Linked DNA regions of Homo sapiens. The main gene of each other region encodes a partner of the protein of the gene in region 2 in a complex. Each region holds a gene or a part of one and is shown on either strand. Other genes may lie near its edges.

Region 1 (3,142 bases), on a different chromosome or scaffold from region 2:
AGCAGCAGTAATATTGTTGTTCTGAGACATCTATATGTTTACCATGGGAGATAGGTAATAAGTAACCATCGGATATTCTAATTCTATGATCCCCTGTGCCCTTGAGAACCAGAATACTCAATTTGGGAGGAAAGAAATATATTTGTAATATAGAAGAGGTTTAGTAAAATCCCTGGAGTCCTCAATTTTGATTGCAAGTTATCAACATGAATTCATAAGGTATTTTATCTTTAAATATATATATATATACACACACACACACACACACACGTAATTCCTAGGCCAACCCAGCAGTAATGAACATTCCTAACTTCAGTATCATTTCTCAGTAAAAGAATGTAAGGCTCCTTTTTTTTTTTTTTTTTTGAGGTGGAATCTCACTCAGTCGTCCAGAATGCTGGAGTGCAGTGGTGCAATCTAAACTTACTACAACCTCCGCCTCCCGGGTTCAAGCGATTCTCCTGCCTCAGTCTGCCAAGCAGCTGGGAATATACACGTGCGTCACCACGCCCAGATAATTTTTGTATTTTGAGTAGAGACAGGGTTTCTCTATGATTGCCAGGTCTCAAGTGATCCACTCGCCTCGGCCTCCCAAAGTGCCAAAGTGCTGGGATTACAGGCGTGAGCCACCGCACCCAGCCAGAATGTTAAGGCTTCTTGGAGAATGTTCTGATTAAAGGTCTGGGGCAAGAAATGCACAAGATGAACTTGGAACATCTTATCAAACCAGAGAGCAAAAAAACAGAAGACGATGGGATTATGTCAAAAAAGGTCTCAGGAACCAACTTGAAGAGGTTCTTATTGGCCAAAGATGGGATAATTTGAGCTTCAACAGGCGTAACAATTACAAGAGATGGAAACACACCAACTATGTTTAAAAACATCAGCCCGTAATGATTCTTTAAAAAAAAAACACCTAACTGCTCATCTTTGGAGGTAGCAGGAAACAAAATCATTATCTGACAAACAGAATCAAAATTTTATCCTGCCTTCCCTACATGAACTACACTACTGGGTAACCAAATCGCAGATGAGAAGCAGCATCTCTTTACACAACAGTCCAACACATAAACAGCATATGGAATCAGCAAAAGCCAAACTGGGAGAATCTCCACAGGTTAACAGTCTGGTTTTTCAACAGCTACGTTTTCGGAAGTTTCTTTTGAGTAATTTAAGAGATACAAAAGACATATCAATTTTTTTTTTTTTTAATGAGCAAAACTAGGGTATCTAGGGGCTGCACATGTGGTAGATAAACTATGAAGAAACACTATAAAAGTCAGGATAGTGTTTGCTTTTGTGGAAGGAAGTTGTAATTAGGACAAATCACCTGGATGGACTTCTGGGATGGCTGGAAAGAACTACTTCTCAACTTGGGCGGGGTTGCACAAGAGTTAAGCCTATAAGAGTTCATTAAGCTATACATTTATTTTATGTGGTTTTCAATATCTGTGTTTTATAATAAAAAGATTTTTCTTAAAAAGTTATAGAATCCCCATTGCCTACAAAATAAAACCCAAGATACTAAGCATAAAATAAAGGCCTTTTATAATCTGGTCCCAAATTAGACTTCATCTTCCCATTATCATGCCCTCTCTTATTTCCCTTATCTGCCACCACTCCCCCAACAACCCTGACCTAACCACTCTCCAAGTAAGTCATGCTCACTCACACCTGCTTTGTCAGTTATGTGGTTCCCTTTTGCTTATTCTTAAAATTCTGCTCATCTTTCAAGATCAAGCTCACAAGCTCCCTCCTTCAACCCCCCATATAGTATGTCTGTTCTTTCCGTGGAATTTCACAGCAAACTCCTGGCCTCCCACTCACAGAACCTATCTCACTTGGTCTTGCATTGTTCACCTGGGATAGTGGAAGGCTAGAATTGAACAGACCTGAATTTCAGCTCCACAGTTTCATTCATTTACAGAACAAATATTTACTAAGATCCTACTACGTGGAGCAGGTACAGGACTAGACATTAGGGACTCAACACTAAACAAGGCAAACACCATCCCTACCATCAAGGAATTCACAGTCTAACAGGAGACACAGGCAAATAAACATGCAATTACAATATAGAAAGAAAAGTGCTTCCTACAGAAAGTATATAAAATACGCCTCTAACCTACCTCTAACCTTGGGGTAGCGGGGGAGCTTCCCTGAAGGCAAAGTGATATTTCAGTTGAAACTTTAAGAGTACGAATTAGCCAGAGGTCGGGCTAATCACCTGAGGTCGGGAGTTGGAGACCAGCCTGACCAACATGGAGAAACCCTAAACTACAAAAAATACAAAATTAGCCAGGTGTGGTGGCACATGCCTCTAATCCCAGCTACTTGGGAGGCTGAGGCAGGAGAATCGCTTAACCTCGGAGGCAGAGGTTGCGGTGAGCCAAGATCACACCATTGCACTGCAGCCTGGGCAACAAGAGCAAAACTCTGTCTCGAAAAACAAAAAAAAAGGGAGTACGAATTAGCCATAATTCAAGGTGCATCCAGTTCTAGCACACACTAGCTGACTACTGATGTAACCTCTCACCCTCAGATCCTCATCTGTCAAATGAGAAGCAAATCATCAACCCCTAGAATTTCTGTAAGGACTCAGTAAAATATAAAGTATATAAAATATACAGCTCAAATGTACTTAAGACAGGTTAGGATTCTCTCTTACTATTTGTGTTTTAAGCTCCTTCAGGATAGGCTCACATCTAATTCATCTCCATATCTGACACAGCACCCAGCACAAAGACATGACAGTCCCCTAAGCTAGACCCCCTCACCTGAGGATGTTGATACAACCATTGCCATTTGTCAGGAAGAACATATTATTGTCATTGTTCCAGGAGATTTCGTTGACCTCGAACTTGAACTGCTCTTCTGCTTTGGAACGGTGTGTCTTGGCATCAATAAAGGTCACCACATCATCCTTGTTGCCTACAGCAATGGTCTGCCCATCAGGACTCCAGCAGATATTAATGTTCTCCCCTGGGAACCCAGACATAATCAGCAAGATAATCTGTTTGCTCATAATCTTCCACAAGTTTATTGCACTATCCTAGAAAGAAGACCAGAGCTTTCTTCCGGGCTTACTCATTAAAGTCCTAGACAATGGAAGGGAGCTACCACTTATGATTCAACAATAAGT
Region 2 (4,184 bases):
ACTACCTTAAAATTACAAGTCTGAAAGAGCTGCACTGCAGCCAGCAAATGACGAGCCTGGGATTCAAACCCAGCAGGTAGTGAAGTCATTATACAACTAATACGGCATTGCTCAGTGTCCTTAACACAAATACCGTTAAGTAACAGTGGGCTCCACCTTCAGTTATGGACAGGATAGGAGGAAATGGATGGAAGTATTTAGATAGACAGTAGAGAGCCTAATGAGGTTTTGTGAAACCCCAAATAAATGAACTCCTTTTTGCTTAAAAATTTTCTTTGCATCTTTTAGCTTGAATGTCCTGCAGAGCTCCACACCTTGTGAGATATGTATTACTGGCTTAGTCTGCAAATCAGCTTTGGAGGAGGTCTGAGGGAGGTGAGAAGGGAATGACGGAATTTTGGAGCAGAGACCTCCACCTGCTAATAAAGACGACAACTCCTGGCAAGCCCTGGAGTTGGGCAGGAAAAACTCACACTGACAGATATATTTAACATCTTTTCCTTAAATATCCTAATATCGAAAAGCCTTCAATGTATCAGCTGCAATACATGTGTTTTAGGGATACAGCCTTAACATGAAATGGACACATACATAAGAAAAATCGTAAGCAAGTCCTTTTTTTTCTTGGCTACTGTTTACAAATTGTTTACTACCCATATTATCTTACCTTTTGAATTTGACCTGCCCCTTGAGATATTGGAATAAAATGAGATACTGCAACAGGATGTGTCGACGAAAGTTACTGTCACTCAGTTGTAAATCCATCAGCTACTCAAGAAACAAGCAAACACATACGAAAACAACACATTAAAATCAAGTTTTTCCTAAAGGTACAAAATGTGCTAATATAGAAATGGAAGATTCCAATTCAATTTAAAAGCCATTTGTTGAGAGTTCACTGCATGTGAGGCATTACCGCACAAGCCCAAAGACAGCCCAGTCAAGGTTTCACTTAGATTTCTTGACTGTTTTATGCCATGACACATTCTTGCTGGTGGATAACAATGATCTATCTATGGTCCAGACATGAGGATAAAATAAAGCAGAAATAGAAAAAAGTAAGCTGGGCATGGTGGCACAAAGCCTATTATAGTCCCAGCTACTCAGGAAGCTGAGAAGGAGGATCACTTGAGCTCAGGAGTTCGAGATCAGTCTGAGCAACATAGCAAGACTCTAAATTTAAAAAAAAAATTTTTTTTTAAAGTAAAACTGAGGCTACTACTTTCTCACATATGAAGAAATAATGGCTAAAGAAGATACGGATAACAGCACAATATCAACGGGGACCACTCATTTTTGTAGCCCTATAAAGTGCCTGCAACAGAGGTATTACTTGACAATAAACAAGAAATTAGAGGTGAAGATCATCTCTGATTAGATGGGCTTTTTTTTTTAGCTTTTAGTGAAAATTGCATCATACTTGTATTATCACAGAATCTGGATTAGAAAGGACTTGAAGGTCACTCATGAGGAAGTTCTTCAACGACCCTGCCATCCAGCTGTAAGAATAACCTGCGGCGATGAAGGAAGGTCATTCTGATTATGTGCATGGAACACTGAAGGAAGGCTGAAGTCTGTATCCACAAACTCATGCTAGTTCTGCCTTCAAAAACTACAGTAACAAAGGAAAGCCACGTTCTTCTAAATGAATCGCCAGTAAGGCAGCTGGAAGCGTCGAAGATTGGTTTTGGTTCAATGTCCCAAGTGCTGGTGGCTCTGCTTTACGTGGTTGGTACCATTTACTAATGCTACCTAACACGCACAAGCCTCCCTATTCACTAGCAACCCCTTCCACACTGTGGCTCCAGGTCTTAAAAAAAAAAATTAATGATCAGCCTTCCAGTCAGGTTTCCCTCACGTTTAAGGATTGAATATATTTGATTGTTATTTATATTAACTCTCCTATCCCAAATTGGAAATGTGAATGGCCGGCCATCAGCCTTCCCTTCCTCCAGCCCCTGGGCAACTTGACTGTCTCCACTCAGGCTGTTAGTTCCTTGCCCTTAACTCCACGGACAGGCCCATCTCTGCTCCAGCTACCCACTACTGTGGCCACAGCTAGACCTGGGGTCACTCACAGCTGCCCCAGATCTGAAGTCTTCAACTCACAATCCTATCTCACCACAACCTCTATCCTTCCCAGGTCTCTCGCTCAGTTGCTTCCAATATACCTAATATTTGGATCTTACCGAGACTTTAAGGCCCTTGACCCGTCTATTCTCTGCCTGTTAGTCCCATCCCATTTTATTATAATCCTATTTTAGTCTAGATAAGGGGTCAGCAAACTTTTTCCTGAAGTGTCAAATAGTAAGTATTTTTATTAATAGGTTATGTGGGCTAAGAGACATATTATGGATATTATGTAGGTATTTAAACATCTAAAATGTAAGGGGGAAAAAAAAACCAAAATCACCAAAAACAACCAACACAGGTGGTGGGCCAGATTTGGCCTATAGGCTATAGTCTGCCAACTCCTGGTCTAGACTTCATGGTTAATCTCTTCGGCCATTTTCTTGCCAACTTCAACACACTTGTCCCATATTTCTTCTGTCATGTCTAGTGAGCAAACAGCAACCTTGAATAAACCAACTGTTAGTCACCTTCTCTATACCAACCCTCAGGATTCCAATCTCAGCTGAAAGTGAGGTGCCTGAGTGAATACCCCAAATTACACAGCTATGCAGAAGGCACCACTGGTATGTTGTCACCACCTTAAACATCTGTTTTTAATCAGCAATCTTTCTTTATTCTTCAAGGCCATTCTCTCTCCTACTCTTCACAGTAATGATTTTCAACCCTTTCCACTTAGCAAAAATACTACTTTACCACCCCTTCTCACTTTCAGTAGATAACTACTTTTGCCTTCAATGAGAAGAAAAATTAAATTGGAAAGCATTTCATTTCTTGGCCCCCAAAATGACAAATCAGCTGCACCTACACCTTTGTTTACTTCATTTCCTTCTGTCACAACTCCTTCACGGCTAAAGGTATTCCATCTGGATTACCTTCCATCTGGAATCCCAATATCCCTAACAATTGAGTTCCATCAACTAACTGCCCTGGTTTCTGTATCTACAACCTATTCTTTCCAAGCTCCTTTCCATAAGCATTAAATAAGCTCCCTCAAAAATCTCCCACATTCTCACCTAACCCTTTAACAGCAAAGCTTCTTAAAATAATTGACTATAGGCACTGTTGCCAATCAGCTCCTCAACCTGCTATCATCTGACCGCCTCATCCACTAATCCATTGAAAGTGTTTTTGTCGGCTGGGTGTGGTGGTTCACGCCTGTAATCCCAGCACTTTGGGAGGCTGAGGCGGGCGGATCACAAGATCAGGAGTTCGAGACCAGCCTGGCCAACATGGTGAAACCCCGTCTCTATTTAAAAAAAAAAAAAATTAGCGGGGCGTGGTGGTGCATGCCCTGTAATTCCAGCTACTCTGGAGGCTGAGGCAGGAGAATAGCTTAAACCTGGGAGGCGGAGGTTGCAATGAGTCCAGACCATGCCACTGCACTCCAGCCTGGGCAGCAGAGCAACAATCGGTCTTGGGGCGGGGGAAGAAAGTGTTTTGTCAAGATCACCAATGACTTATTTGTTGTTAAATCCTGTGAACACTCTTTACTGTCCTCATCCTACTTGATATGCTTGGCTTCCATGAGTGCATGCTTTTCTAGTTTTTCTCTAATCTCACAGGTTACTCTTCAATCTTCTCCTCTTCTCCCTTCATTCTCCCTTAAACATGGGTTTTCTTCGGGATTTCAGTATTTTCTTCTCTTCTGAATCTACACTCTCCCCTTTAGCTCATTTCATACACTCTACAGTTTGAATTACCATTTATAAACTGGTAACTCCTACAACTATACTCTCAACCTAGATCTTGTTCCTAGTCTCCAGCTTTGTACACTAGACAACCTATCACACATCTCTACCTGAATGTTCAACTGACACCTGATCAGATTTCATGAACAAAGTAAAACATCAATTTCCTCCACAAAAGCTGTTCTCCAGCATTGGCTAATTCAATGAGAGGCTCCAACATCCATTTGCCCAAGCAACTCTAGGAAGGCTTCCTGGAGAAAGCAGCATCTAAACTCTCAACAAGGAACAAACCTAAAGGTGGAGAGTGGGGGTTGGGGGATGGGGGTGCAAGAAGGGGAGCCAAATAAGAGACTGGCCTATTTG

The links. The genes of interacting proteins can lie anywhere in the genome.
Region 1: THOC1 (region 2) and THOC3 share a complex: the UniProt entries of both Homo sapiens proteins name them as parts of the transcription/export (TREX) complex.

What each region holds. Positions count from the first base shown.
Region 1 is NC_000005.10:175,962,174-175,965,315, forward strand, and holds part of THOC3 (THO complex subunit 3), read right to left. Parts: intron 2,983-3,142; coding exon 2,778-2,982; intron 1-2,777. UniProt on the Homo sapiens protein: Component of the THO subcomplex of the TREX complex which is thought to couple mRNA transcription, processing and nuclear export, and which specifically associates with spliced mRNA and not with unspliced pre-mRNA.
Region 2 is NC_000018.10:226,134-230,317, forward strand, and holds part of THOC1 (THO complex subunit 1), read right to left. Parts: intron 769-4,184; coding exon 668-768; intron 1-667. UniProt on the Homo sapiens protein: Component of the THO subcomplex of the TREX complex which is thought to couple mRNA transcription, processing and nuclear export, and which specifically associates with spliced mRNA and not with unspliced pre-mRNA.